4 linked regions of the Homo sapiens genome follow. The protein of the gene in region 1 interacts with the protein of each later gene in a pairwise test. Each region holds a gene or a part of one and is shown on either strand. Other genes may lie near its edges.

Region 1 (8,676 bases):
ATTAAGTACATTTACATTGTTGTGCAGCCATCACCACCATCCATCTCCAGAACTTTTCATCTTCCCCAACTGAAACTCTATACCCACCAAGCAATAACTCCTGTGATGGTGAATTTCATGTGTTTTGTTTGTTTGTTTGTTTGTTTGTTTTTGAGATGGAGTTTCACCCTTGTTACCCAGGGTGGATTGCAATGGCATGATCTCGGCTCACTGCAACCTCCGCCTCCTGGGTTCAAGCAATTCTCCTGCCTCAGCCTCCTGAGTAGCTGGGATTACAGGTGCCCGCCACCCCTCCCGGCTAATTGTTTTGTATTTTCAGTAGAGACAGGGTTTCACCATGTTGGCCAGGCTGGTCTTGAACTCCTGTCCTCAAGTGATCCGCCTGCCTCAGCCTCCCACAGTGCTGGGATTACAAGCGTGAGCCACCGTGCTGGCCTTCTGTGTCTTCTTGACTGGGTCATGGGGTTCCCAGACAGGATGCTTTTAAATGAGATTAACATATTAATCAGAAGAGGAAAGTAGATTTCGCTGCATAATGTAGGTGGGCCTCATCCAAAAGTTGAAGGCCTAAAGAACAAAAAGCTTCTAACCTTCCCCCAAATAAGAAAGAATCCCCCAGCTGTCTATGGACTGGAACTCAGCCATCAACTCTCCCAGTTCTCCACTCGCTGGCCGAGTCTGGCAGCCCACACTCCAGATTTTAAATTACCAGGCTCTATAATCATACAAGCCAATTCCTTATAATAAACCTATTTCTATGTATGTACACAGCGTATTGATCCTCTTTCTCTGCACAGACCTAATACAAATCCCAATTCCTTTCTCCTTTCTTGGAAACCACCGTTCCATTTTTTTGTTTCTATAAATTGGTTTATTTTAGGCACCTCATACTGGTGGAATCATATAATATTTGTCCTTTTGTATCTAAATTATTTTATTTAGCATTATGTCTTCAACAATTATCAATGTGGTAGCATGTGTCAGAATTTTGTTCCTTTTAAAGTCTGTATAATATTCCATTGTATGTATAAACCACATTCTACATTTTATTTATCCATTGATGGACGTTTGGGTTTATCCTGTTTTTAAAGATCAGTGGGATAGTTTCTACAGTCCTTGTGTGGCAGATAACTGGACAGATTTGAAAAATTTTAGAGGGCTCTCATTATTCCTGCCTCCTGGTGTTCATGATCTTGTGTAATCCTTCCCCTTGAGTGTGAGTGAGACCTATGACTTGGAGTGTAGCAGAGGTGCTGGAATGTATGTGATCATCTACGTGTGCTTATGTAAGGTATAGTGACTATTATGCTAAAGTCACTCTCCCTCTCCTATTTCCATCTTTATCTCCCTGTCTAGATTTTTAAAAGCAAGCTTAAATGGATCCTGCAGCCATAGAGAAATAAATTCTGCCTGAGGGAGCTTGCAAGTGAATCTTCCCAGGCTCACCTGAGAATGCATGATGAGAGTGCAACCCAGCAGCCACCTTGACTGCAGCCTTGTGAGACATCAAGCAGAGGACCCAACTAAGTTGTGCCCACACTTCTGACTCACAGATACTTTGAAATAATAAAAGTACATTGTTTTACCTTGCTGCTCACATAATTTGTGGTGATGTGTTACACAGCATATCAACCTAAAACATTCTATGATAAACTGAATCCTTCTGTCTTGTTTAACTTTTTTAACTCTAATCTTTTTACTGATTTCAGTGCCTTTGAAGCTGTCACTCAATCCCTATGCTGTGATCTTGGCTTATCAGACAGAAACACTTCCCAAGGGATCTCCCAAGGGTTGCAAAGATGAAACTTCTTCTGCTATATTATTTATTTTTGAAATCAGGGCTGTGGCCCTACCCACTGACTTATAGTTTGAGGTTGATGCCTCAGAGTCCTGGCCTCTATTTTATTGAGGCACAGAGAGGAAAGAAATCCATAGTTGGCCACCTGACTTAGGCAAGGTCAAAAGGAGAATGATCAGTGGAACCAGAAGTAAGCAATTTGTTTGGCTACACTTGTTACACCAGTTGTATAACAATTCCCTGAAGCATAGGTGTAAAACTCTATGTACATGCACCCTCTACTGGTTCCACTCCAAGTCCTTAACTACCTGGACATAAGCTAATGATTCACAAGCTTAATGGAACTGCACAAGATTGTATAGGATTGTAATGAGACCATTTCCCTCTATCCCAGCTACCTGCCCTTCTGTACCTGTCCAAAGTGTACTTCGTTCAGTCTTCTTGTCTGAATTATCTTTCTTCTTTCATCATTCCCTATATGGAGGCTTGGTTAGGGACAGGATTCAGAGTTAAAGCTGCCCCAAGGCATAATCTCATTCATTAGGATAAAAACAAACTTTTATCTTTCCAGGGACTAATCTGGTGAGAAAAAAAAAAAGGGTAGTAATAATTCTAAGAAAGGAAAGTCACAAGGAGGTCATTAACAGAACCTATTTTGTTCAAACCTGTTTGGAAGCTGGAGGGCAAAAAGATGATGGCAATTACGTGTTAGAAAAGTGCAATGCGAGCGGGGAGTCATGTTAACCAGCAAACCTGTTTAGGCAGGTGAAGGCTGGCGTGGTTGGGAGAAAAGGTGGCCAGGCTAGCAAGGAAAAATATTCAAGAATTAGAATATCAGGAGACTAAAATGTGGTCTGGAGAGGGAATGGTATAAAAATATACAAGAGAAGCATAAAGGACAGTAATTATCCAGAATCTTGAAAGTAAAGGTCACTGGTAAACTTTAGTGAAAATCAAAATAATCTTAGCAAACACAAAAAATATCAGGACTGTTATATTCATTTTACACACATTAACTTATTTAATCTGTATAAGGCTATCAAGTAAATATTACTACTATTACCCCCATTTTATATAAAATGAAAATGAGCCAATAGAGGTCTAATAACCTGCTCCAAGATCACACAGCTCATAAGTGACAAAACCAAGTATTTAAACCCAGGTATCCTGGCTAGGCTTTAGGTCTTGGTGCTCTACTGTCTTTCTGTCAAGAAAAAGAGAAGGGAAAGTTTCATGATGGGTTCCCTACGTACAGGGCACTCATGATAGAAATATCCTATTCAAAATGCTTTCCTGTCTCTTATTTTATTTTCTCTAGGAAATAACATCTAAAGCAGGTCAAGTGGGTATTCTGCTCCTGTTGTATGAATGGGAACGTTAAGGACTGGAGGAATTACATAATAATTTAGTGGAAGGCCACCTAAAGCCCTGCTCTCCTTGTCCTATAAAATACCTTCCACCTTGCCAAGTCTTCTACTGAAATCTGGAAATCACCCTTCATCCTAACCCCAGTTGCCTAATTTAAAAAAATAAAAAATAAAAGACTGTCAGTGCTCATTTCGTCTTGAAACTGACAGATTTTAAATCACCAGTATGGTACCAGGCCATTTTCTCATTATTTGTTTTCCTTAGCTGAGAACAAAACCAGTTTATATCCTGCATTCTCATATCCCATCATCAAGCTATGTGTGAGGACCCTTAGAGTATGATCAGCTCACCCAAGAGTCTCCCTTCCACAATCACTCAGCATAATTAGATTTACTGAGCTAGAAAGGTCCTGAAAGGAGGTTTTATTCAATTCTTATGAGATAGATATATCACTGTAAACTAACTTCTACTTTTCTTATCCCAGCCTGGCCAATATGGTAAAACCTTGTCTCTACTGAAAATAGAAAAGTTAGCTGGGTGTCGTGGCAGGTGTCTATAATCCCAGCTACTCAGGAGGCTGAGGCAGGAGAATTGCTTGAACCCAGGAGGCAGAGGTTGCAGTGAGCCGAGATTGCACCACTGCCCTCCAGCCTGGTGACAGAGAGACTCTGTCTCAAATAATAATAATAATAATAATAATAATAATAATAATAATAATAATAATTTTTTTATTAAACATTTGGTATTAAGTAAAAGATCACCTACTTAAGTATAAATCATTCATACAGCATTCTTTTGTTTCTTTTAATATTTTGCTTTTTTGAGGCAGATTCTCGCTCTATCACCCAGGCTGGAGTGCAGTGGTGTGATCTCGGCTCACTGCAACTTCTGCCTTCCGGGTTCAAGTGGCCCTCCTGCTTCAGCCTCCCAAGTAGTTGGGATTACAGGTGCCTGCCATGACACACAGCTAATTTTTGTATGTTTCGTAGAGAAAGGGTTTCATCATGTTCTCCAGGCTGGTCTCAAACTCCTGGCCGAAGTTATCAGCCCGCCTTGGCCTCCCAAAGTGCTGGGATTACAGGCATGAGCCATGGCACCCGGCCACATTTGTGTCTATAGCTTTGTTTCATTGTAAGTATTCTAGGCCAGGCACGGTGGCTCACGCCTGTAATCCCAGCACTTTGGGAGGCCGAGTCGGGCGGATCATGAGGTCAGGAGATCGAGACCATTCTGGTTAACATGGTGAAACCCCGTCTCGTCTCTACTAAAAATACAAAAAAACTTAGCCGGGCGTGGTGGTGGGCGCCAGTATTCCCAGCTACTCGGGAGGCTGAGGCAGGAGAATGGCATGAACCCAGGAGGCAGAGTTTGCAGTGAGCCGAGATTGCGCCACTGCACTCCAGCCTGGGTGACAGAGCAAGACTCCGTCTCAAAAAAAAAAAAAAAAAAAGTATTCTATGCTTTTGCATGTGTGCTTGTTTTTACTCTAACCTTAGGTTTTATTTTCCTGAGTGACAAGACTTATTTCTCAATCACATCACTCCTTAACCAAAGAGAGAGAGAGAGAGAGAAAGAGAGAGAAAGAAGGAACAAAGAAAAGGCAAGAAAGAAAGAAACCTATACATTTGCTTTTTTAAAATTTGGTTTTAAAAAAATGTCTTTCTCAGTTATCTATTTCAATGGGAAGTGAAGTCAGGGAGGAGGAAGATGTCACTGATAACACCTGAAAATTCTAATCTTCCGACTTGATTTCTCATCTTCAAGTCTGTTTTCTCCAAAGATGAGATGGCTTTCCTGTTCACTTGGCAACCTCTCAGTCTTACCCCAATGCTTAGGGATATAAATGACCCAGAACCAGGAGAGTTGATTATCAACATAGTGAAGGGGAGGGTTTCAAAGAGCAAGAAGGGGTTGTTAGTCACACGGAGAGAGAAGAAAGGAGATTAGCAGGGTGACTTTCACCCTGCAACAGTCACGCTGGAGTACTCTGGTGAAGGATCAAGAATATTACCAGTTTTCTGATGAAGAAAGGAATATATTTGGTCACCAGCAATCTGCCTTTGACCATCCTCAAAGCCAAGTTTTTCATCGCTGTCTAGAAAAATACTTCATTCAGAGGACACATATGTCCTCTTTGAATGTCTCCTTTTTGGGAGCAGTAGGAGAAAGAAACTTCAAGATGTAGAAAGAATTAATAGTGTAACGGAAAGAAAGAAGGCAAAAGGAAGTAAATGTGGAGGCCATAGAAATAGTAATAAGAATAAAGAAGAAAAACAGGAAAGAAGAGGGAAAAGCCATAGAAAATAACAGCCAGAGCGAGTAGGAGGAGACAGAGAGAACGAGAGAGAGAAAAGCTGATAAATTCCTGAGAAAAGTTTCTCTTCTTAAGAATTCTAGGTCAAGAAGTAAAATATGGCACAGAGCATTGAAAGGAGGCAACGGATGCCCAGTGCAAGATTCTGAAGAAGCAGGAATTCAGCCCGATGGGAGTCCGAGTTCATGTCGTGGCGGCCTCAGCCCTGCTGTATTTCATCCTGGTGAGTTCAGTGGTGAAAAGGCAGAAAGAGTATTTTTCCCCAGATTAATCAACTCTCAGAAGAGTCTGAAAGGAAATGAACTGCGGGGTGGGGAGACATATACAGAACCCAGGGGGTCATAGGGAAATGAATAAACTACAAAGTTTCCTTAGTATTACGAGATTGCATAGATGCATGTGTGACTGATGGCAATGACAATGAAAAGGGGGACAGAAATTAGAGTGAGCATGGAAACGAGCAGGATTGCCGTGGCACTTTAGAAGTGCCGCTGAAGTATTTTATCTCTTTTAGCATCTTATCACCCATCCCTCAAAATTCCAAACAAATTATGAAAACTAGGTGTGTAATTCCCCTAAACGGAATTTCCCATCCAGGAATTTCTAATCCTGTTCTAGCAGTTTAGGTGCCTCTAGTCTAGAAATAAGAGAGGCAGGGCTCTTTTAAAATATTTTGGGCCCCACAATGAATCAGAAGTCTCTGAGTAATCCATTAGTGGAGAAAAGGGTCACTGGACTGAGGGATTCTAAACAATTGTCACAGGGAAGTTTATAGAGCTATGCCATCTAGCAAGAAGGAGAGCAAATGAAGAAAACTGGATAGTCTCAGATTCCCGTATGGCCCCCGTACAGAGTGGGCTGTATGGTTTGTTTTTTTTTTTTTTTTGCTAATAGAACAGTTAAAGTGGTATCTGAAAATCCATTTTTTCTTATATTTTCTTTTTGCTTCCTCTTCACTCCCTTTGCCTTGTCTTCCCTTCATTTTTCCTTTCTTTTCTCTTTGCAACAAGCCTGAAAAGTAGCATTTTCTCTGCTGAGCACTTTAGGCTTCTCTTACCTTTAGTGAAGAAAGTGAAAGAAAGTACCATGGTTGCGTAGAGGAAACACACGCTTTTTCATCGTTAGTGGCCATTTCTTTCCAATGAAAACACAAACACGGGTTTCTCAAATGTTACCTGCAAAGGCTGGCCATTAATCCTTTTACAGATCCTTTCCAACTGATAGGTCTTGAGAATGTGTGTCTCCTTACCCCTTCACTACCCGCCATAAACTCCCAATAGTTACAAATCTGTTTCTTTTCTAGGGCCTTTGTGGTTGCTTTCCTGAAATATCAGATCACTCAGGTTATTAGAAGACAGAAGCAACTTCTAGAATTGAGTTTACTTAAATGGTTTGTTGTTGTTGTTGTTGTTGTTTTTAAACGGAGTTTTGCCCTTGTTACCCAGGCTGGAGTGCAGTGGCACGATCTTGGCTGACTGCAACCTCCGCCTCCTGGGTTCAAGCGATTCTCTTGCCTCAGCCTCCCAAGTAGCAGGGATTGCAGGCATGCACCACCACGCCTGGCTAATTTTGTATTTTTTTAGTAGAGATGGGGTTTCACCATGTTGGTCAGGCTGATCTCGAACTCCTGACCTCAAGTGATCCACCCACCTCGGCCTCCCAAAGTGGTGGGATTGCAGGTGTGAGCCACTGCACCCAGCCTTGAATGGGTTTTTGAAAGAGGAAGTCAACTAAAAAATCAGGTAGAAGAAAGAGTGGACAGTTTTGTTTGTTTTTTTGTTTTCTGTAAAGGGAGTAGAAGGGACTTCATAGCAATGTCAAGGAATTGTTAGAGCAAACTTGTCCCCAGTGCTATTAATTCATCCAACACATATCTATGATAGAGTTTGATTTGAATTCTGTCTGCATCAATAGGTGTGTACATTTGGTCACTTTTTTTTTTTTCCAAGATGGAGTCTTGCTCGCCTAGGCTGGAGTGCAGTGGCATGATCTCGGCTCACTGCAACCTCCACTGCCCGGGTTTAAGCAATTCTCCTGCCTCAACCTCCAGAGTAGCTGGGATTACAGGCGCACATCACCACGCCGGGCTAATTTTTGTATTTTTCGTAGAGACGGGATTTCACCATGTTGGCCAGGCTGGTCTCGAACTCCTGACCTCATGATCTGCCCACCTTGGCCTCCCAAAGTGCTGGGATTACAGGCGTGAGCCACCACGCCTGGCCTGGTCACATTACTTAAAACCCTGTGCCTTAGTCCCTTAACCTTTCAAGATAAGGTTAAATATACCCACCAAGAGGGTTATTGTGATTAAATGTTATGAAATATTAAGAGTTCATGGCCGGGCGCGGTGGCTCACACCTGTAATCCCAACAGCACTTTGGGAGGCGGAGGTGGGTGGGTCACTTGAGGTCAGGTGTTCGAGACTAGCCTGGCCAACATGGTGAAACCCTGTGTCTACTAAAAATACAAAAATTAACCAGGCGTGGTGGCACGTGCCTGTAGTCCCAGCTACTCGGGAGGCTGAGGCAGGAGAATTGCTTGAACCCGGGAGGTAGAGGTTGCAGTGAGCCAAGATCACGCCACTGCACTCCAGCCTGGGTGACAGAGCAAGACTCAAAAAAAAAAAAAAAAAAAACAAAAAAAAAAAACTTGTTAGCAGTCTGAGTGGCATCTAGTAGCTATTCGATAAATAAGACTCTCTGTCCCACTGGCCCCCTCGCTTTTCCCCTTCTTCCTTTGTATAGTCATTGTCACACTAACAGGATAAAAAAAGAGCAGTGGTGTAGAATTCAACTGGGCAGGAATTAGGAGGACAATGGCAATATCCCAAGGGACAGAGAGATCAGGAATTTTCTACTACAAACAAATTAATGTAAATGGCTACCTCTCATTCACAAAGGGTGATGCTCACCCACCATCAACACAACAGATGAGATATTTGTTCTTCAAGGTTCCCTTACCTCAAGTACAAAAGCCAGCAAGTATGGGAGAGATGAAAATGGCAGTCCTAAATAGACTGCCCCTATGACCGTGACCTTCTTACTGCTTGATCTAACACAGCACAACCATGAGAGATGATTGGTAAGCAGCTGAACACAGTGGCCAAAACAATTTCCCTGTATAAGACAATTTCTCTTTCTACAGCTTTCTGGGACGAGATGTGAGGAAAACTGTGGTAATCCTGAACAGTAAGTAT
Region 2 (7,546 bases), on another chromosome or scaffold:
AGCCAGGAAGTAGGATTTAAGCCAGGCCTGGCTCCCCAGCAGCTGCTCCTAACTAGGGACTGTCAGGGCCTTGGGGTGTTTGGGGAAGCGGGGCATTGGGAGCCAGGCGGCAGGAGGCCCGCTTCCCAGGAGTGTCTCCGTAGACCGCTCAGAGCCTGCCCGGCCCTGCCAGGACATTGCAGACTTCAGGCTGAGGACTGAGCAGGTTCTTCAAGCTGCTTGGGGGTGGGGTGGTGTGTGGAGGAATTGACGTGAGGCTGGGACTGGGGGTAGAGGGGGACTCTACCTCCTGGCTGCAGCCCTAGCTCCATCTCTGTTCCCCCGAACCTCCTGCCCCTCATCCCACACCCATGCCCTTCCCGGTCCCAGCCCTGGCTCTGCCTAGCCGGGGTCCCCAGCCCAGCCCCTGACCCTACCCTAGGCCCAGCAGAGTTCCTGGTGACAGCAAACACTTTCTCTTTCCCAGGTAGACCTGCTCAGCATAAGGAACTCGTTTCTCTCTCCTTCCTGACCTGGCATCAGTCCTGCCCTCTCACCAGCCTGCAAGGCTGCACCAAGCCCTGGCCTCCGAGCATGCCCTCCCCTGCCCTGTCCCTGCCCTGTCCCTGCCCAAATGCTGAGTGCATAGTTATCATAATTGTTTTTTTTTTTTTTTTTTTTGAGGCGGAGTTTCACTCTGTCACCCAGGCTGGAGTGCAATGGCATAATCTCAGCTCACTGCAACCTCTGCCTCCTGGGTTCAAGTGATTCTCCTGCCTCAGCCTCCTGAGTAGCTGAGACTACAGGCGTGTGCCACCAGTCTCGGCTAATTTTTGCATTTTTGGTAGAGCCAGGGTTTCACTGTGTTGGCCAGGCTGGTCTCCAACTCCTGACCTCAGGTGATCCACCCACCCCGGCCTCCCTCAGTGCTGGGATTACAGGTGTGAGCCACCACGCCTGGCCTAGTTATAATTTTGATAGCGAGAGCTGGCACTTCCTCCACCTTGCCCTGGAGTGCACACTGACCTTGCCGTGTTCTCACTCACTTAACCCCCCAGCAATCCCCGACGTCGTCCACTATGTCCTCATTTCACGAACAGCAAAAATGCTGAGAGAGGGTGGTGCCCGCAACCAACGGTGCGGGTGGTCCTTGCAGGTTGGCACAGACTCCTCCCTCTGCCTGGCACCCCAGGGCCTGGGAATCCTCTCAGCTTCCCAGTTAATTCCACATGCTGAACTCACAATTTTAGTTGGAGCATCCATTTCTTTTCCTTTTTTTGCGGGAAGAAAGCCTGAGGCTTTGGGGAGCATTACTGAGGCCCAGGAAGTGTTTAGGATCCCCAAAAGTGTTGGGGGTTGGGGGAGCTGGCGTGGGTGGGTGGGCAGGATGGCATGTTGGATAGGGGCACAGGTTGTAGGTGGACTGCCTGTGGTCTGAAGCTGTCACCCATGACCATACGAGTCCTGGTAATAACAGCAGATGCTTATTGAGTGTCTACCCCATGGGGGCATTTTCTCAGCTTCCCACTTACTCGCTCAATCTCTGCAGCTTAATGCAGGGGGCACTATTATTAGCCCACATTGCAGTTGTAATCCTGTAACCCCTGCAAATTCATCTTAAAGCCCTATGCTCTGTCGCCATGGCTGTTGAGTCTCACCTCTTAAGCCTCTTTCCAGGGGCTCCTCCAAGCCACCTCTGGCCTGCAAGGCCCCACTATACCCCCTTCCCATGATGTCATCCAGCCAAGACTGACAGATGGTATCCTCCTCGCCCCAGCCTCTGCAAAACAACGTCCAGTCCCATGCTTCCGGAGGCTGCAGGGAGCCGGGAGCTGGGTCTGCCCTCACGTTCCCCATTCAGGCTGTTGTCTGAAGAGGCTGTGGGCTGCTCCCGAACTGATGTGGTTGGTGAGCAGGTTAGAGAGGAAGGCAGCCCTGCAGCTGATGCTCTGTCTACCTGCTCTCATCCTTCCTGGCCATGAGGTCCCAAGGCCGGCCTGAGGACTGTTTCCCCCACCTGCCCTCTGCTATCCCCTCTATTCCTCCATACCATGGGAGAATGGTCTCATGTTCAGGGGTGGGTAGAAAGATCCTGCCCGCTGTGTGCTCCTGAAATCTCCCAAGCAACTCCCCATTTAAAGCTTCCCCCAGCAGCTCCATCCTTTTTTCCTGGAGGTCTCCAGAATCCAGATCCCTCAATGTCTGGACACCCCGAGTCCACCCAGCACTCCTTATCCACCCAGATCCCTCAATGTCTGGACACCCCGAGTCCACCCAGCATTCCTCATCCACCCAGATGTCCCCAGTCCATCTACGCACCCCTGGTCCACTTAGATACCCCTACCTACCCAGGCACCCCCTCTCCTCCACCCAGCTATCCCCAACCCAGATATCCCTAATCCATGCAGACACTAGTCTTTCAGACACCCCAACCACACTTATCAGTCCTGCCCTCACCTCAGCTGGTTCAACAAGTCCCTGAGAGGAGAATGGTGGGGAAAGGGACATTAGGGGAAGGGACTTCCGTTTATCTCCTGGCTCCAGAAAAGCATTTCACAAGATTTTAGGCGCTTTAACATAAAAGCTTCTATGGGGCAGGGTCAGGGGGCAGGTAGATACTTCCTAATTTAGGGGCAGAGACAAGGAGGGCTTGGAGGAAGGGGCCCCAGCTGCTCACCTGTGTGGTTCACCAGGCTGAGCAGAGGTTCCGGGAGAAATCGGGCTGCCAGGCGGAGTCCTGCGTTTATCCGAAGCTGCCACGCCCTAAGCAAACCTGGGCAGGTAGAAAACAAGTCAGATGCCCTGAGGCCCAGGGGCTCCATTCCTGCTCTTAAAGAGACAGCTTCACCCCCTCCCCAGCCATGGGCGGCAGGTTGCTCCCTGGGGTCACCAGGACCACAGCAGCCTCAGGTGAGACGGAGAATTGGATGGGCTGGAACTCGGCCCCTGGAATTAAGGGAGGAGCTTTCTCCAATCTCCTGTGCCCAGGAGAGGACCTTGAATGGGGAAGGTTCTGGGGTCTTTAAACGGCAGAGCCTCCAGGGCCATGCAGTGAGATGATGCGTTGGTGTTCCGACCTCACTTCTTTTCCTTAGATGATGTGTTTTGCCTGGTGGAAGGATTGCTGGCAGTTGTGGAGAACTTAAAGTCCCCTTCCAGGCCACATCTTGCCGCTGGTACAATTTCAGGATCAGCAGAAGATGCTAGCGTGACCAAAGTCAGGAGATGGGGCAGGGGTGGATATGAGGGAGCGGCTGGAACAGCAGGGAGGGGTCAGGGTGGGGACTCTGGGACCTTAGTCCTGGTCATAACCTGCTCCCTGCCCTGGGGAGAATGAGAACTGTCTGCCAGGCACCAGGCTGCAGTTTCCTAGCCAGGCTCTTTCCGTGGGTGCTGGGAGCCAGACGCCTGGGTCTACAGAGTGGGTGCTGGTGGGGGCGGCTGCCTCCTAGTCCACATAAGGCCCCCAGCACTGTACAAGCCTCCCTCCCCCTTTCCTCCCCTGTCTCCTGCTCCTCCTCCTCCAGGCATTCCTTCCGGATGGGGTCTGTGCAGGCTCCCCCATGGTCCCAGTTGGGGGTGCCCCCTCCCCTCAATTCCGCCTTCTTAGACAGAGGGACTTTTGTCTGGGGGCTGGATGGAGAACAAGGATCCTTTGAGCGGTTGGCGGAGGATTGGGGTCACGGGGAGGGGTAGGGCCAGGAAAGGGGTAGCTCTGCCCTGGACACCAGCTGGACTCCAGGCGACCCCAACACCACCGTGGGGGCGGGGAGGAGGGCTGCAGGGCCTGGCCAGGGAGAAGCAGCTGCTGGGAGTGTGGAGCACAGGACAGGAAAAGGGGGTTTGGGTCAAGGCTCTTCCGGAAACTGGCCTGCTGGGGGCAGAGAGAAGGACCCCCCACTTGTCATCGCTGAGGGATCGGGGAGGGCAATGTTCGCCCAGCGCTACACCCCTTCTCTATGTGGTTCCCTGGGGCAAGTTGTCAAGCCCAGGTCCTAGACAAGGGTAAGGCTCCCTCCTACCACTCTTAAGGCGGGGCCAGTTCCCATAAGGAAGCCGGGCGGGGGGACCTCGGGGTAGGGCTCTAAGCAACAGGTCCAGGAGGAGATAGAAACAGGAAGGGGAGGCCCGGAGGCCAACTCAGTATAGCTAAGGGGGGTCTTTGTGTCTGGGCGGATAGCGTCTCTTCCCTAGACCCTTGAAGCTTGTGTCTGGGACGACCCCTTGGTGGTCTTGGGAGTGGAATGGTGTCTCCCTCTGCTGGGAAGCCTGGGAACTGCAGGCATCCGAGAGCGAGTAGGGGCGTGTACAGGGTGGCTGGGAAGGGCGGGGGGTGCTCTGCCCTTCACCGGAACGGGGTGAACTGGAGAACTGTTGTCTAAAAATCTTGGAGGAACACCCCTGCCCGTGGTTAGATACAGAAGTATTTCCCAGACAGCTTGCTAAGGGGAAAAAAAACAAGGTATTGGGAAACCGTGCAGTGTGCTACCATTTGTGAGCGGTAAAATAATGCATATGTATATACTTGTAATGAATAAAATATTTTTGGAGATTGGCATCCATACCCATGGCTTCTGGAGAGGGAAACTGGGAGGCTGGAGGGTGGGGTGGAAGTGAGACTCACTCATTATCACGTGCCCTCTTATATTTTTTGAATTTTGCATCTTGAAAATGTACTACCTTAAAGGGGTTTAATTTAAAAAATTTGGTTCAGATTTAAAAAAAAATTTGCAGGTCAAAATTTCAACCTAAGGGCTGGTTTCAACCTGGGGGACCAGCAATTAGAGACTTCTGACAACCTCTGAATGTTCTGTAGTTTTAAACACCATGATCTTACATTCTGAGGTACAGACGTTTACGGTTTTTACCCAATCCAGGTCAACCATAAATTCTTCCTAGGCTGGACGTGAACATGCTGCGTCCAAGTGTGTGTTGGGCTGGCGCTGGGGCTTGGGTTTATGGTCAGAAGGACTCTGAGACCCTAGTGTGATGAGCACACTGAGTCTTAGGAAGGGCTGTGAGGAGTAGAGTTTGTGCAGTCACTTGCACCCTATTGGGGATTAGGTCTCATTTGGAGTGAGTCTTCTGGGCCAATCTGACTTCAGTTATGTTTTAAATGCATGTAGGTAATATGTTTTATTAATATATTGTATATAATATACATAATAAACATATTTGAAAAAGTTTCTCTCGTTTTGCTTTTGGAATCATTTGGGCCCAAAGAACCTGTTAAGGCTGTGAGTGGCTGTGATTTCTCCATATCCTGGGAATTCTTGCAAAATGAAAAAAACCAAACCTACAGATAGTTTCTGACATCATAAGTTTTTCAGGAACGCTGAATTAAAGCACAGAATCAAAGCCAGAGCATGTTATACCATCCCTGATTCAAACTTTTATTGATTTTGTTTCAATAATTTCGTTGCTCTTTATTCAAGGCTGGGAGCGTTTCTGCAGGCTCCTGGCCCTAGAGAGGGCAGCCTGGAGGCACCCCCAGCCATGAGAGGGGTGCTGGTTGGGTGGGGCCTTGCCTTTGCAGGTAGAGCCTGAGCGGCCAGGCTGACCGGCTGGGAGGTGTGGTCACAGCGATACGCCAAGGTCCCACTTCCTGGGCAAGATGGGGCTAGAGAGGCCGGTGGACAGGGTAATGTGGCTTCCTGGGGCTTTGTGGAACAGCGCTGTGGTCTCAGCACCTGTGGGAGAAGAGTGGGCACTGGCAGGTAACCCTGTCCCACCACCATGGGGATGGTGTGGCTGTGGACGTATCACTGTCCGCCTGGCTTCCAGGAGCCATGTGAGGTGACACAGTGGCCAAGAGTCCACAGGCTCCCTGACACCTGCCTCTGTGCTGCTCTGACGTCATCACTCACCCACAGAAGCTAGAAATGGAGATTTTTATGATGAAATCTCCTGTTTTGTTTTGTTTTTTTTTTGAGATGGAATTTTGCTCTTGTCGCCCAGGCTGAAGTGCAGTGGCACGATCTCAGCTCACTGCAACCTCTGCCTTCCAGGTTCAAGCAATTCTCGTGCCTCAGCCTCTCGAGTAGGTGGGATTACAGGTGTGTGCCACCACGCCCGGCTAATTTTTGTATATTTAGTACAGACGGGGTTTCACCGTGCTGGCCAGGCTGGTTTCCAACTCCTGACCTCAAGTGATCCGCCTGCCTCAGCCTCCCAAAATGCTGGGATTACAGGCATGAGCCACCGAGCCCGGCCTTCCGGATTTTTTTTTTTTAAGGTGAGTTCTTGCTCTGTTGCCCAAGCTGGAGTGTAGTGGTCCAATCATGGCTCACTGCAGCCTCCAACTCCTGGGCTTAAGTGATTCTCCCACCTCAGCCTCCCCTGTAGCTGGGACTACAAATGCACGTCACCACACCTGGCTAATTTTTTAATTTTTTTAGAGACGGGGGTCTCGCTATGTTGCCCAACCTGGTCTTGAACTCTGGGTCTCAAGTGATCCTCCCACCTTGGCTTCCCGAAGCGCAGGGATTATAGGTGCAAGCCACTGCACCCGGCCCTGATTTTTAAATGTTGGTAACTTCGTTTTCTTAACACTTTGTAGACAGAATGAAAAATATCCAGTGGTTGGATAAGGCCCTGGGGCCACCGGTTGGAGACCCCCATCTTACAGACTAGGGAAACTCAGGGGAGGTTCAGGGTTCCCCCTAACCCCTGTTGTCACTCACTCTGCTCCGGCCACCTGGGCCTCCTTGCCGTTCCTGGATCACTCCAGGCATGTTTCTGGCCAAGAGCCCTTGCAATGCCTATTCCCTTGCCTGGCTCTCTTTTCTCCCGCATCTGGACAGCTCAAAGCCATGAGGTTCAAGTGGCTTTCCCCGACCACCATCGCACCTACCCCCTGACCTCTCTATGACCTTTTGACTTCTGTTTGCTTTTTTTTTTTTTTTTTTGTGGTGCTATCTGCCTCCCCTGCTAGCACGTCAGCTCCTCTCAGGGATTTTCATCTGAATTATAGAACAGGGCCTGGTGCATAGTGGGTGGTCACGAAGTATCTGTTAATTACCAGGCTGGGCACCATGGCTCACGCCTGTAATCCCAGCACTCTGGGGGGCCGAGGCTGGAGGATCCTTTGAGTCCAGGAGTTCAAGACCAGCCTGGGCAATATAGAGAGATCTTGTCTCTACAAAAATAAAAATAAAAGTAGGTTTAAAACAATTATAAAAGAAAGGCTTTCTCCACCGCCACCCCCCATCCACGGAGGCCTTGCAGGAGGAGCTGAGGTGGGGGTGCTGAGGGTGGAGCTGCTGATGGGGGCAGGGGGTGTGGAGGAATGAATGTCTTGGCCAGCTTCCCCATCATGTGGGGAGTGGGGGCGGCGTGGTGGGGGTGGGGAGGGCTTGGGCAGATGGCTGGGGGTCCTGGGTGCGGGCAGGAACTACAGGGAAGCAGGAAAGGGCAGGGAACACATTTGGAGCTAGACATCTGGGACAGGGACTTCTGGTTCAAGTGGGAGCCCTGCAGCCCGCCCCCCCCCCCCAGCCTGACTCAGTCCCTAAGAGAAGGATTGCAAACTGGCGGTCCCAGGGTGGAACCCAACTATTGTACCTTT
Region 3 (7,633 bases), on another chromosome or scaffold:
GGCAGGAGGCTCTACTGAGTTTACTGTTACATCTGCAGAGCGGGCACAGGGGTACCACCCAAGAGGTTCTCAGAAACAGGGCCCCACTGTGCAGCCTGCCCCCACCCCAACTTTGTTCTAGAACAGTTGGTCCATGTGCCACCTACTATGATCTGAATGTCTGTGTCCCCTCCCCAAATTCCTATGTTGAAATCCTAACCCCCAAGATGATGGTATCAGGGCTGAGGCCTTTGGGAGGTGATTAGGTCATAAAGATGGAGGCCTCATGAATGGTATCAGTGTCCTTAGAAAAGTGGCCCCAGAGAGACCCTTCACCTCCTCCACCCTGTGAAGACACAGCAAGAAGGTGCCGTCTGTGAACCAGAAAGTGGACCCTCAACAGACACGGAATCTGCAACACCTTGATCTAGGATTTCCAGCCTCCAGAACAGTGAGAAACAGGCTCCTGCTGTTGACAAGCCTCCTGGTCTACCGTAGTTTATTACAGCAGCCCGAACAGACTAAGACACCGTCTCTGAGCACTTTGCCTGCAGTCATGGACAAAGCATGCCCAGCACAGGCCCTGACCAGGTGCCTCTCAGCCTCACGTGCTGTCCCTCTTGGAAAGAGCTCTCCTAGGGAGCAGGGACTCTGTCTTTCCTACTCACACACCCTCTACCCTCCATCCCCATCCACAAGTCACCCAGACAATGCCAGCCTGTTTTGTGCTCAGAATATCATGAGGACTTTGTCGGACAGTGGCAGAGTGCCACATCTCCCTGGTTCTAGAAAACATGATCCTACAAGAGGGTGGGGAAAAGAGCACATGCGGATCATTGTCCCTGGAGGCAGTGGGCACACGGAGCCCATGGCCCATCAAAGGACAGTGCCCTGGTGAGCAGCCACCACTTCAGATTTTCCAGTTTGTGGATTTTGTGCAGTAGACACAGAGCCTGCCTGCTGGAATCAAGAGGCCTAGTCACCAGCCATGTGGCCTGCGCACATTACCTCCCATTCCTAGCCTGTATGTTGGGTGACACCCACCAGCAAGCCTCTGTGGGATTAAATGAAGCCATGCAGGCAAAGTGCCTGTGGCAGTGCTGGGACTCAGCAAGCCCTCAGTAACAGGTTCCCCTCCTGCGCTGACGCCATGGCAGCTGTGGCTGCCATTCCCCCATCCGCCAGCAGGTGCCCTCACTGCTTCATGCCTTCTATGGAACCCAGGGCTGTGGGTGACTGTGTCTGTGAGAAAAATAAAATCCCTAGGGGGAAGTGCGCGTTCAGGGTAGCTCTCTGAACTCATGTCGGCACCCGGCCTCGCCATCCATAAATGGGGATGATGACCCCCACTTCCTTGTGTTCCCAGAGGTGAAGGTCCCAAGCCCTGTCCACCAGGGCAGGTGCCTGGGGCCACACCTGAGATGACCATGAAGACTGGATTTGGGAGGCTGCCGATGTCTGCATGGAGCTGGCATTTGACTGGCAATTGCCCATCTTGAGCAGGGTTTTCATCGAGGGCTCGGAGCTTTAGAGGTGCAGCGTCACTCAGGTTCAAGGTGCTCAGCAACTCTGTGCCCTTGGGCAGCTACTTAACACTTCTGAGCCTCTGTTAGCTCATCAGTAAAATGGGAGTCATCTTACCTACCTCAAAAACCAATGCACCTACTGTTACGGATGGGCAACTCCTGCCCATTAATCTTTCCCTGAACACGTCCCTCTCCCCACAATCTCCTCCCTCCCCCTGAACACACACAAACTGGAGGTGGTAACCTCTTCCTTCCCCAGGCTGGCTCTGCAATGGCAACTTTCCAATTCCTACTTTGTGGAAACCCACCCAAGGCCACGTTATTAATATTTGACAGAAGCCCCAGACCCACCCTCTTATTCACACCCACTGGGAAGACCAAGGATACTCACTGAGTTATTATTGGCTGAAATTATTTTTTCATATCCTGCTGGAAACCAAAATATGGTCCTGGGCTTCTGATAAGTATCAACCACCTCATTCACCAGCAGGTGGCCCAGAGCACCTGCAGAAGCTGTGCTGGGGAATGAAGACAGGCCCATCTTTACTTACCAATGCCTCTCTCTTACCAATGTCTCTCTCTCTCACCAATGCCTCTGTTTTACAAATGCCTCCTCTCACCAACGCCTCTCTCTCTCTCTCTCACACACCAGTGCCTCTCTCTCACCAGTGCCTCTCTCTGTCTCACCAACGCCTCTCTCTCACCAATGCCTCTCTATTTACCAATGTCTCTCTATTACCAGTGCCTCACTCCTCACCAGTGCTTCTTACATCCAAACAGGGCACTTCCATGTCCTCCTCTGGTGGTCAAGCACAGACAAAGCTGGAGTCATCCACCATTGGCTAAGGTTTAATGAGCACTCACCAGAGGCTGGGCTCTGCTTGGGTGCTGAGCATATGCTAGGGTGGGGAAGGAGAGGGGCAGATGGGGGTGGCTGGAGGATGCCCTGCCGAGGGTAGAGTCTGGTCAGGAAGATGAACGTCGAGCGGAGAACTCCAGGTGGGAGGAGGGGGTCACAGAGATAGGGACAAACCCCCTTGACCCTGGCCGGGCTGCCTTCCTCATCCTCTGAAGCCTCTTTCAGAGATTGCTGCCCCTCTGCCTTATCAAAGGAGGGCTGGGACTGCTGAGCTCCACTGAGTTGCCCCTGGGAGCGAGCTTTCCCCAAAGGCTCAGGCCCAAGTAGGAATGAGTTAGCAACAAAGGCTTGAAATAAGTAGGAAATCACCAAACCAAACCACAAACAAAAGCCCTCCAGGCCAGGTAAGGACATTATTAGGAGTTGATAGGATCTTCTTGTTCTTAATTAGTATGTGCTGATAGGAAATCTCCAAGCAGCTTTCGCTGGACTGCCTGAGGGTCATCTCACCTCTCTTCAGGCTGCGGCTTCCTGTGGCCACCTTGCTTTAAGGCTTGTTCCCAGGACGGTCTCCTGGGGAGGAAGAAGATGTCCTCTCAGAGGCCAGCAGGTCCAACTAACGAGCTATGAGATGCCCAAGGTGGATGAGGACCTGGGCTCCTAAAGTCCCACAGCCCATTGTGTCCAGAGAGATGCTGCCCTGGGGACCCGACACAATGGCACCTTGGTTGCAGCCGTCCGGGCTGGCAGCTCACAGAGGCACAGTGGGGTTTTCTCATTTCAAATGCCTGGCCCCTTTCCAGAGGCACTTAGAATGGCCAGCTGATGGGCGTGCTACTTTTGCTTTGGAAAATGCGTCCACGAATATACTTCTCTCCCTAGGGACTGGGAAGGAGGAAGAATTGTGCAGCAGGGAGAGGTGAAGGCCCCACTGGAGAGAAGGGGAGCCCCTTGTCCTGCCTGCAGCAGCTGCCAATGGAAAGAAAGAAGAGTTGGGAGTCTAAGCTGGAGGTTGCGGGGCCAATTCCCTTTTGGCAGGCGAGAATCCGGACTCGGGCGGATTTCAGGCTTCAGTGTTTGTAGGAGGAAACACAGCAATCACACTATTAATAGTAAATTAAAATAAATGGGCAACTGCTGCATGGTAATACTTTTTTTTTTAAGGCAAAAAATAAAAAATAGTGAAACAGAGAAACAAAACATGAAACACCGGCAGTCAACAGGCAGGCAAAGAACCTGGGGGTGGGGGTAGCAGCGGTCCCACCCTCAAAAGGCCCGGGCTGCCCAGACCAAGAGAAAGCGATGAATCTCTTCTGGTAACGTCCCTTCCTGTCGCATGGATTCAAGGCCGACCTGCCCCAGCACCACCACCAGCAGCCTTCTGCTGGGGCCGGCACAGCTGGGAGCAACCTCCTACTCTCAGGCAGACGCGCAGCACCAAGCAGAGAGGCCCGGTGCAGGATCCCAGCGCCGAACCAGCGCCGGCTCAGTGGACGCGGAAGGGGCCGGCGGCCGCGGCCGGTCCCATCCCCCACTGCAGACCCCCAGCCTGTGGCGGTGGTCCAGTTCCGCCAGGAAACCGCCGCCTGGAGCTGTGGGTCGCGCACATTAACGCATCCAGCGGAAAAATGAAGGAGACCCAAATTCAAAGTTAAAGTAATGGTGACCCGAGAGGTGCCTTGATGAGAAGGTTTGGGGTCCCGGTTACTGATGGTTATCATTCTTACGAGATGCTGGTCACCTACGAAGGGAGAAAGGCACGAGGAGCGCCTGACCAAAGTGGTTTTGCCCTGCTTCCCGCAAGAGGTGGCACCCACGGCTGGAACGCAGGAGTCAGACCCACAGTCCCCAGCTCTGGACGCCCGCAGCGGGGCCTCGAAGAGGTTCAGGGCGGTGCCCGCGGCGCTCGGGCCGGGTCTCCCGGGGCGTGGGGCGGGGGGCGGGGTTGGGCGGCGGCCGGGGCTCCTCCCTCTTCTGCCCCGGGCTCCCCTGCTCTTAACCCGCGCGCGGGGGCGCCCAGGCCACTGGGCTCCGCGGAGCCAGCGAGAGGTCTGCGCGGAGTCTGAGCGGCGCTCGTCCCGTCCCAAGGCCGACGCCAGCACGCCGTCATGGCCCCCGCAGCGGCGACGGGGGGCAGCACCCTGCCCAGTGGCTTCTCGGTCTTCACCACCTTGCCCGACTTGCTCTTCATCTTTGAGTTTGTGAGTGGCTCCTGGCCGGGGAAGGGACGGGGTGGGCTGAGCCGTGCGCTCTCTCGGGCGCCCAGCACAGCTGTCGGACGGGATCCGCTAGCTGCGCAGGTTCTGGGAGCATCGGGGCAGCAGGCGCAGGGCGGGGACTAAGCCAGGGAAGTCCCCTCCCACCTCCGGTCCTTTGTGCCCTTCTAGACCAACAGAATGAGGGGAACAGTCTACAGGACTATGGAGGAAAAACTGGGTTCCCAACTGGGGTCAGATGTAGGCAGCGGGGCAGGGGGGGACGGCTCTTGGTTCGCTGGTCCCAAAGCTGCGCGCGGGGCCCACTTGACGCGCGCAGCGCCACCGAAGCTCCCGCCGCGCTTTGCGCGGTTGGGTAGAAGTGCGCAGCTTTTACAAGGGAGAAGGTTTCGTTAAAAAAGAAAAAAAAATCAGCAAGAGAAACATTAGTATTACCAACCGAGATTTGGAGATGAGAGGGAGCTGAATCCGGTTTATTTTCTTCTGGCCTTTTAAAGTTTCTGGCGAGGGAACGTATTTGCGACCAATTCGATCTGGAAATGAGGCCATCGTTTGCTTGGCCGCAGTCCTTCTGCCCCGTGTGCGGGGTGGGGGTGGAGGAGATGGGGGGTGGGGGGTGGGGGGTGGCGGCGAGAGCGATCCGCGCGCCTCGACTGACCTTGGGCAGGCCCGGGGCCTCTGCACCTGCGGTCGGTCCCGCCTTGCACGCACGGTCTCTGCCTGAGGCTGCAGGAAAGCGCTTCCTACTGAGAACTCCTGATAAGCGCTCACGGTGTCGCGAAGCCGAAGTGACCTCCCTCAGCCTCAACTCCCCGGGGGCCGCTGGCCTTCACCTGGGAGGGGTGTGCCCTGTATGTCCTGTGGGTGCGGTCCGTCACCGCCTGAGGGACACCTTTTCCGGCACCCCACCCTCAGAAGTGTCAGCGTGGAGAGTTGGGCGGGAAAGAAAATGTCGGAGCCTGGCTGTTTAAAAATTGGACCCCAGGTTGTTATTGCCTGATTGGAGGGGGAGGGTGTGAATACCAAAGGGAGCAGGTCAGTTCATCCAAAGAGGGCTTGCGGGCAGAGGCTAAGAGGGCTGCGGCGGCCTGGGAGCAGGGCTACCATTGAACTTAGGGTGAAAGTCCAGTCGAACCCAAACCTGGGTGGAACCGGTGACTTGAAATCCTAGGGATAGGCGGAATCAAAGCAGTTACATTTAGAAGAAACCCTGGACGCCAATGAACGCAGCCCCACCGTTTACAGAGAGCCAGCCCCCCGCTGGCCTCCTTTTAGAAGTTCAGCATACAAGAAGGAGTGCCCCTGAGAGTAGGAACAGTCCAGTTAGACGGGGCGATCTGATCTGCGGGAAAGGTGACCGGAGACTCCCACCCAACCCGCCAATGCTGCAGAAATTACAGGGGCGTGGGAAACCTTGGAACCATCTACTACTGGCAGCTTGCTCTTCCAGCGTGGCTTTGTGGCCTGCCGGTAGCGGGGCTTCCAGAAGAAACAACTCCCCCTCGCCCAGAACGCTTCTCTCAGCTGACTTAGAAAGTCACTTCTCCACCTCACCCCTGTTCCCCACCTCCCTTCCTCACTTCCCAGGAGACCCGCAATGCATAGTCATCTCCAGGCATCTTCCACATGCTCTAGATTAGGGGTGGGCTCGCAGGTGCCTGGGAGAGAAGAGGAGAAAGCTGACCCCAAGCCTCTCAGTTCTCCTCTGCATGGACTGTAAATACGAAGCTGTATATATTTGATGTGTGGAAGGAGTGGAGAATTAAAGGGCCTGAGAAGGCGCTGGCCACCCCGGGAGAGTTTTTGTTTTTGTTTTTGTTTTTGCTTTTGAGACGGAGTCTCGCTCTGTCGCCCAGGCTGGAGTGCAGTGGCGCGATCTTGGCTCACTGCAGGCTCCGCCTCCCGGGTTCACGCCATTCTCCTGCCTCAGCCTCCCAGCTACTCGAGAGGTTTTTTTAATTATGGAATATTACAACTCGACAACAAAAAGACAACCCAATTAGAAAATGGACAATGGACTTGAACAGAGGTTTCTACAAAGAAGATACACAAATGGCCAATATGCACATAAAAAGATGCTTAACATCATCAGGCATTAGGAAAACTAAATTGAAACCACAATGAGGCCAGTTGCGGTGACTCACGCCTGTAATCCCAGCACTTTGGGAGGCTGAGGTGGGTGGATCACCTGAGGTCAGGAGTTCGAGACCAGACTGACCAACATGGTGAAACCCCATCTCTACTAAAAATACAAAAAAAAAAAAAAAAAAAAAAAACCCGGCTTGGGTGGCTCATGCCTGTAGTCCCAGCTACTCAGCAGGCTAAGGCATGAGCATCGCTTGAACCTGGGAGGCAGAGGTTGCAGTAAGCCGAGATCATGCCGCTGCACTCCAGCCTGGGCAACAGAGTGAGACTCGGTCTCAAAAAAATAAATTAATAAGTAAATAAATTAAATAAATAGAAAGAAAGAAATCACAATGAGATACCACTTCACACCCATTAGGATGGCTACTATCCAAAAAACGGAAAACATCAAGTATTGGATGTGGAGAAATTGGAACCCTTGGTATGCCACTGGCGGGAATGTGAAATGGTTCAGCCACTGTGGAAAACAGTTTGGTGTTCCCTCAAAAAATTACCCTCTGACCCAGCAATTCCACTCCTGGGTATATAACCAAAGGATTCCAAGCAGGGACTTTAGTATTGGCACATGCATGTTCATAGCAGCAGTCTTCACAATAACACACAGCCCAGTGGCCATCAGCAATGAACTGAATAACAAAGTGCGACATATCCAAACAATGGATACTACCTGACCATAGAAAGGAATGAAGTACTGATACGTGCTACAAAGTTGATAAACCTTGAAAACTCTATGCTAAGCAAAAGACACAAGGCACAAAATGTCATATAGTGTATGATTCCGTTTATATAAAATACTGGAATAGATAAATCCATAGAGACAGAACACAAACCCTGGTGGTTTGCCAGGGACCAAGGGGAGCAATTGTTTAATCGCTATGTGGTTTCTTTTTGGGGGTAATGAAAATGCT
Region 4 (7,709 bases), on another chromosome or scaffold:
AGGTGCCTGCCACCACGCCTGGCTAGTTTTTGTATTTTTGGTAGAAACTGGGTTTCACCATGTTGGCCAGGCTGTTCTCAAACTCCTGACCTCAGGTGATGCACCCGCCTTGGCCTCCCAAAGTGCTGGGATTACAGGCATGAACCACCATGCCCAGCCTTCTACCTGATGCTTTAAATGCTGATGTAGATTTTGTAACCTCACTTCTACTGGAATCCATGGAGAATTTGCGAGAGGGTATAATGACAAATGACAGATGAGCCTAAGTTTAAAGTGCACAATATGTGTGTGTATGCGCATGCGATCGCGCTTACTTTTCATCATATCCTGTATGTCAGCCTCAGCAGTAATGTCAGGAATGAGGGAAGGTAAAGAAAAAATATATATTAGCAAGTGAAGATGTTGTATGTAGAGCATACAATAATGTACTCCATCATTTTTCTTTCAAGAATATTCCACGGACATTGCTGTGAATTATGTTACTATTATCTTTTTTTGAGACGAGGTCTTGCTCTGTCTCCCAGGCTAGAGTGCAGTGGCATGATCATGACGCAGAAAAGCCTTGAACTCCTGGGCTCAAGCAATCCTCCCCTCTCAGCCTCCAGAGTAGCTGGGATTACCGGTGTAAGCCACTGTGCCTGGCCACTATTATCTGTTTTTTATAGGAAGTTTCACTGTAACTTATCCAAAGTTTTTTAGCTTAAAAGTGGAACCTGTATTTGTCTTTGGTCTGTCTGGTTCCCAAGCCCGTCGTTTTTACCCTAAGTGATTATTATATTTTATTCTATGATATTCCCTATTCTATTAAAATTAACAGTACAGTTTATATTTTTATATTGTGCATATAGTGCAATTTCTGTTTAGTGTTTCAAAAATTAAGGACAAACTGTCTTATAGTCATGCCCAGGTATTGCTACTCTTAAGCTTTTGTACTGCTTAAGTGGTTTATCTGTAAACTATCTCTATTTAGTTCCCGGAGGAATTAATAGGAAAGTATCAAAATAATAAATATACTATAAATGAAACAGCTAAATAATAAAACTATAAAAAAGAACAGGAACTAGGTAGAAAAATGATCATTGTACTTAGAACCTGGGACAAGATGGATGCTTTTAATTGTTCATTAACCTTAACTCAGAGCTTCCTTGTAGCCAAAGCAAACAAGAGAAAATGTTACAGTTTTATTTTTTTGCTAAACAAAAGCATACTTCTTTTTCTTTTTTTTCTCTTTTTGTTAATATGCCCTCAGACATACTTACTTTACAAGAGAAATTTTTTTCTTGTTTAATTCTATTAGAAAGTTTAATGTATATAGCCATAAATAAAGGACATGATGGAAAATAATTGTAAGGATTTTTTTTTTTTTGAAACAGTTTTGCTTTGTTGCGCAGGCTAGAGTGTAGTGGCATGATCTTGGCTCACTGCAACCTCTGCCTCTCAGGTTCAAGCAATTCTCTTGCCTCAGCCTCTTGAATAGCTGGGACTACAGGCACCCGCCACCAAGCCCGACTGATTTTTTTTTCTTTTAGTAGAGATAGGGTTTTACCATGTTGCCCAGGCTGGTCTCGAACTCCTGAGCTCAGGCAATTAGCCCACCTTGGCCTCCCAAATTTCTAGGATTACAGGTGTGAGCTACCATGCCCCGCCTTTAAGGATTTTTAATAGTTCCTTTTATTCACGTTAGATAAAAGCTATGATTGAATATAATTTAGAGATTGTATTTCTCCAAAGAACTAAACATTACTGTTTATTTCTGGAGATCTGCTTAGTATTGTAATAAAATTTAGATAATATAGAGACCTATTTCTCTCAGATATCAGCTGTTCTAACCATTATGAACTTTGATCAGTGCTTCTTCCTTATCTGGTGTCTAAAATGAATCTTTTCCCTGGTAACAAAATATTTGCAACTGAGGCAAATTTAGTTTTCTGTTATGGAAATTGGCTAGGATTTTATTTTTACTTCAGTGGAGCTTTCTTCCCCTTCCAGAGGTTGATGGGGCTGTCAGTATACCTGTGAACAGGATCTGGTGCAAGTATTAACCTGCTTTCCTAAAAATATGTTGAATCTACTCAAGTGTCCAGATGATTTACATTATCGAGATCTAGAATTTTGTTCAATACAGGGTTGAAGAGATACTTCTGATCTTGAAGTTTTCATGAATATGTGGTACAGATTGGCTGCCTCAGCAATAAAAAAGCCTGAATATACTCCTAAAGAATGGCCGTTATTTGTACCATATTGAATAATGGTGTGATTATAGAAGCTTACCATTGATTAAAAAGGGACATATTAGTCCTTCTTCATTTGAAGTCTCTCATTCCTATGTGGTGATGGCTATCCAGAATACATGTGCTACTTTTAATAGAGCAATTATTTTGGTAATATATACAACAGTGTAATTTTTTAATTAGGGCATTCGTTTCTCTAGTCAGTAAAAAGGTAACTTTCTTTTTTTCCTTTTCCATGTATGGTTTAACTTCTTTTAGTGTTTTTTTTTTAAATCATCATTCATTTAACTTACAGCAGATTTATATAAATATATGACTATCTTTGATATGCATAATATATACTAGGCTAACAGGGCTCCTAGTATTATGTATTCCTAAGACGTTACAGAGCTGCAAAAATGAACAAAATCATAAAGCCTCTTCTCTACACAGGTGCTCGAGTTTGGCTTTTCATTGGTTTCATGTTGATGTTTGGGTCACTTATTGCTTCCATGTGGATTCTTTTTGGTGCATATGTTACCCAAAGTAAGTATATATTCTTCTTGTATTTTATAGGAGAGATTCAGATATGTCTTTTATATTTGGCTTACTCTACCTTGAGTACAACTTAGTATAATTGTTCACTTAGATTGAAGATACTGCTCTGTGTGAAGATACATGAGTTTAATAAAACTTGTCAGTGGGAACACTTAGTGCAGTAGGATAGCCCTGGTTAGGAAATCCAAGCCACTGACAAAGCTGGTACCTCTCAGCTGTCTCCAGACTTTCTGCTTTCCTTCTTTACCTTAGACAGCCAGGATTTTATGCTAGAGGCCCATTTACTGGGAGTTGCAGTAGAAAAAGTGAGAAACCAGTACAGGTGTACACTCCCTTATATACAATTCTAAAATCCACAAAATGCTGAAAATCAAGTTATTTATAACTAGTCTGGCAGCAAAACCTGACCTAAACTGACATGGAGCTCACTATTTTCTTTATCCCATTTAGTGTAAGTATTCAAATGTTTTATTGTAGGAATGAAAATAGATATATTAGATTATAGGATGTGCTTGTCTATACCCAGCTGGCGGTGCTATGTAGTATATGTGCTTTCCCTTACTGTTCTTAAACCTGAAGAATTCTGAATCCCAAAATATATCTTGCCCCAGGGATTTCAGATAAGGGGTATAGACCCCTTATCTGATAATCTATGGATTGCCAGTAGATAATCTTTCGTTTCATTGACACCTTCTCTCTCCAACCTAATCCTGTAATTTTTTTTTTTTTTTTTGAGACGGAGTCTCACTCTGTCACCCAGGATGGAGTGCAGTGGTGTGATCTCGGCTCACTGCAACCTCCGCCTCACAGGTTCAAGTAATTTGCCTGTCTCAGCCTCCCAAGTAGCTGGGATTACAGGTGCACGCCACCACACCCAGCTAATTTTTGTATTTTTTTAGTAGAGACAGGGTTTCACCATGTTGGCCAGGCTGGTCTCAAACTCCTGACCTCAAGTGATCCACCCATCTTGGTCTCCCAAAGTGCTGGGATTACAGGTGTGAGCCACCATGCCCAGCCAATCCTGTAATTTTTAAGTCATGGGTACAGGGGGAGTTTTTTAAGGGCAAGACTGAACACATATGTATACTCTTCATACAGAAACAGCTGATGGAGTGGGATGAGCTCTTATTACACCATGCTGAAATCTGTGGCTCTGCCAGGTGCCATAGCTTTTCATTCACAGTAGTGATGAAAAATAGAACCCAGTTTCAGAAATGTCTCTGGAAGCGTCGGAAGACTGTTTCACTGGCCCTCTTCCTTTGCTCCTAAGACAGGAGTCAGTTTCAGAGAACGCAATTTATTCATCCTCTGACTCCTCTACCTCTGGAATCTCTTTGTCAGCCTTCTTTGCTTAACTGTCACATCTCCTTGTCCTGACTCACAGCTGGTTTTTGAATACTTTTGATAGTATCATTTAAGTCTCATAGTTTGATCAGTATAAGATCTTTGGAATACTTTTGTTTTTCTTTTGTCTTTCACTTGATACAAAATAAGTCAGATTACAAGAGGACAGTGGTTGGCTTAAATAACATTGGTCACCAACTGTATCTAAAATGTGTTTTTTAGTTAATTAAAAATACTACTAGAGCACATAATTCTGGTATGAAGCATATCTGAAGGAAAATGCTTTTTTAAAGATAGCTTCATTGAGATATAATTTGCATACCATATAATTCAGCCATTTAAAATATGCAGTTCAGTGTTTTTAGTATTTTCACAGAATTATGCTACCATCATCACAATCCAATTTGAGAATATTTTTATCACTGCCATACCCATTAGCAGTCACTCCCCATTACTCCTTCCCCTAGCCCTAGGCAGCCACTAATGTACTTTCTGTCTGTATCTATTTCATACACATGGAATCTTATAGGAAAGTGTTTTTTTGAGACAGAACCTTGCTCTGTCGCCCAGGCTGGAGTGCAGTGGCGTGATCTCGGCTCACTGCAACCTCTGCCTCCCAGGTTCAAGCAATTCTCCTTTCTCAGCCTCCTAAGTAGCTGGGACTGCAGGTGCATGCCACCACGCCCAGATAATTTTTGTATTTTTAGTAGAGATGGGGTTTCACCATATTGGTCAGGCTGGTCTCGAATTCCTGACCTCAGGTGATCCACCCACCTCAGCCTCCCAAAGTGCTGGTATTACAGGCGTGAGCCACTGTGCCCAGCCGGAAAGTGTGTTTTAAACTCATTTTATCCCTGACTGTAAGAAGGGTGGGCTGCTGTCACTGATTTTCTTAAAAGGTCTCCATAGTTATGTTAAAGAAAAACTTTAGATAAATTAGCAATTTGAGCAAACCAAGAAGAGGTTCGGAGAGCTTCACCCAGCAGCATGAGCAGCTGTAGGCTGAACACAAGGCAAAGACAAGAAATTTTTAGATTGTCTGTAGCTATATGTTTGTCTTATTTGTGCATGGTCTCATCAGTTGGCTGCTTGGGATTGGCTAAAGCTTAGCCGTTTGTGATTGACTAAAATTCAGCTATTTATTAAAAAATATAACCCTAGGTTTCAGTTCGTTTACGTAAGTTAGGTTCCGGGGGGTGGGTTGGGGTCACACAGGAACTCAGAGTAGGGAGATAGCCTCAGGTTAATGGCTTCCTGCTTATTTACTTTAGCAGTTGAAGTGATCCATGAGCTTTACAGTTTCTATAGTGAAAATAGGGATAAATTGCCATTTCTGTAAGGTATGTAGGGAAATATTGTTTGTAAAGGCTTTACTATTGTTGAGTGTATTTTTTTTTTTTTTTTTGAGTTGGAGTTTCACTCTTGTCGCCCAGGCTGGAGTGCAATGGCACAGTCTCGGCTCACTGCAACCTCTGCCTCCCGGGTTCAAGCGATTCTCCTGCCTCAGCTTCCCGAATAGCTGGGATTATAGCCGCCTGCCACGACTCCCAGCTAATTTTTTGTATTTTTAGTAGAGACAGGGTTTCACCATGTTGGCCAAGCTGGTCTTGAAGTCCTGATCTCAGACGATCTACCCACCTTGGCCTCCCAAAGTGTTGGGATTACAGGCATGAACCACCGCTCCCAGCCAATTGTATCTTAATATTTAAAGAACTAGTAAATATTGATAAATTTCTTGATTGTGAATTTCATCTTTCTATTTCAACAGCATTACTCATTTAAATATACTTTTCTTTTTTTTTTAAGATGGAGTTTCGCCCTGTCGTCCAGGCTAGAGTGCAGTGGTATAGTCTTGGCCCACGGCAACCTCTGCCTCCTGGGTTCAAGTGATTCTCCTGTCTCAATCTCCCAAGTAGCTGGGATTACAGCCATCCACCACCACACTTGGCTAATTTTGTATTTTTAGTAGAGACAGGGTTTCCCCATGTTGGCCAGGCTGGTCTCAAACTCCTGACCTCAAGTGATCTACCCGCCTCGGCCCCCCAAAGTGCTGGGATTACAAGCGTGAGTCACCACACCCAGCCTAAATATACTTTTCTATTTGTAAAGTGAATATGACTTTATTTCAGAGAGCATTTCTAGGCCATGTTTCAAATCTTTTACTGTACAGATTTGCTTGAACTATTAATATTCATAGTAATAGCTAACTTTTATATATTACTTTATAGGCTAGATACTGTTCTAAGCACTATATAGAGTCACTCATCTAATTCTTACACTCTGGAGTAGGTGCTATTACAATGCCCGTTTTACAGGTGAGGAAATGAAGATATGCTGAGGTTAAATAATTTGCCCAAGGTCATACAGTTAGTCATTGGTATAGATAGGATTCAAACCTGGGTCTGGCTCAAACTTGGAGCTCTTAACCATGCTGCTGTATTGTTTGCTATGATATCAAGAGCTCAGAATTGAACCAGTTTCTTCATCTTCTCCAGTATTTTTTAAATCAACATTTGTAGTTTTACAAAAGTTAATAATCCACAAAAATTTAAGTAGTTTCCATTTTGTTTCTTTTCTTTTCCTATAAAGATAGTAACCATTTCCTCCAGGATAGATTCAGTGAAAGAGAATGATAAATTCTAACTGTGTTATTTATATCTGACATATTTGCATGATAAAACTCCTGGATTGAGAGCCAGGCATTGTGGTGTGTGCCTGTAGTCCCATCCACTTGGGACGCTGAGGCAGGAGGATCACTTGAGCCCAGGAGTTTGGGCTGTAGTTTGCTATGATTGTGCCTGTCAGTAGCTGCTGCACTCCAGTCTGGGCAATATAGTGAGGCCCCATTTCTTTAAAAACAAACACAAAAAACCTCTTGAATTCATGAAAGAAAATAAATTAACAGACTGTTTAAAAGTCAAGAATTTATTTTGTATGTTTTTACGATTTTGCATTTCAGTGTTGGCCATAGGAGGCAAAGGAGCAAGTTACTGCTTCCTCAGCAGTTTTGATGTAGCTAGAACCAGCAATTACTTTGACTAAAAGAAAACTTTGTAAGTTCATTGACTTTTATCCAGAGTAAGAGCAGTCCTTTGCTTTGGGGGAATTAAATTGGCATTTTCTTCTTTCAGTTTCATTATAGATGTCTTACAGTTAATGAATAATAGCAGTATGTTGTAATATACAAAATGTATCATTATGAATGGCACTGATACTTTATTACTGCCGTTTGCCTATATAACCGTCTAATCTGTTTTACTTTGTGTATGTAGATACTGATGTTTATCCGGGACTAGCTGTGTTTTTTCAAAATGCACTTATATTTTTTAGGTAAGTTGCCTTATTTTTTAACCACGCCTGTAACATTTACAGAAATGTCAACTTAATTAAGGCAGCATATATATGGAACACATATAAATCCCATGGATTGGTTACAATGATAGAACTTCTTTTAAAAGGTGAGAATTCCACTGTTACATAAGAGCAGAGAGGCCTTTTAACTAGAGGTCTTGCTGTGTATCAAGACTTTAGCTGGATCCTTTATATATTTTACCCTTTGAATTCACATTTAGGCCAAGTGCTGTGGCTCATGCCTGT

Evidence for each region.
Region 2: the proteins of TMEM52B (region 1) and FXYD3 interact in binary tests that used the Homo sapiens proteins (3 or more experiments, as listed by UniProt).
Region 3: the proteins of TMEM52B (region 1) and MAL interact in binary tests that used the Homo sapiens proteins (3 or more experiments, as listed by UniProt).
Region 4: the proteins of TMEM52B (region 1) and TMEM50B interact in binary tests that used the Homo sapiens proteins (3 or more experiments, as listed by UniProt).

The regions. Positions count from the first base shown.
Region 1 is NC_000012.12:10,173,926-10,182,601, forward strand, and holds the start of TMEM52B (transmembrane protein 52B isoform 2 precursor), read left to right. Parts: upstream 1-5,106; 5' UTR 5,107-5,649; coding exon 5,650-5,703; intron 5,704-8,624; coding exon 8,625-8,668; intron 8,669-8,676.
Region 2 is NC_000019.10:35,111,470-35,119,015, reverse strand, and holds the start of FXYD3 (FXYD domain-containing ion transport regulator 3 isoform 1 precursor), read right to left. Parts: upstream 3,194-7,546; 5' UTR 3,057-3,193; exon of another isoform or gene 2,976-3,056; intron 2,753-2,975; 5' UTR 2,657-2,752; intron 1,760-2,656; exon of another isoform or gene 1,711-1,759; coding exon of another isoform or gene 1,638-1,710; intron 1,017-1,637; exon of another isoform or gene 892-1,016; intron 527-891; exon of another isoform or gene 417-526; intron 1-416. UniProt on the Homo sapiens protein: Associates with and regulates the activity of the sodium/potassium-transporting ATPase (NKA) which transports Na(+) out of the cell and K(+) into the cell.
Region 3 is NC_000002.12:95,021,321-95,028,953, forward strand, and holds the start of MAL (myelin and lymphocyte protein), read left to right. Parts: upstream 1-4,387; 5' UTR 4,388-4,472; coding exon 4,473-4,565; intron 4,566-5,019; exon of another isoform or gene 5,020-5,113; intron 5,114-5,238; exon of another isoform or gene 5,239-5,709; intron 5,710-7,633. UniProt on the Homo sapiens protein: May be involved in vesicular trafficking from the Golgi apparatus to the cell membrane. Plays a role in the maintenance of the myelin sheath, and in axon-glia and glia-glia interactions.
Region 4 is NC_000021.9:33,455,460-33,463,168, reverse strand, and holds part of TMEM50B (transmembrane protein 50B), read left to right. Parts: intron 1-2,663; coding exon 2,664-2,756; intron 2,757-7,071; coding exon of another isoform or gene 7,072-7,154; exon of another isoform or gene 7,155-7,165; intron 7,166-7,384; coding exon 7,385-7,442; exon of another isoform or gene 7,443-7,443; intron 7,444-7,709.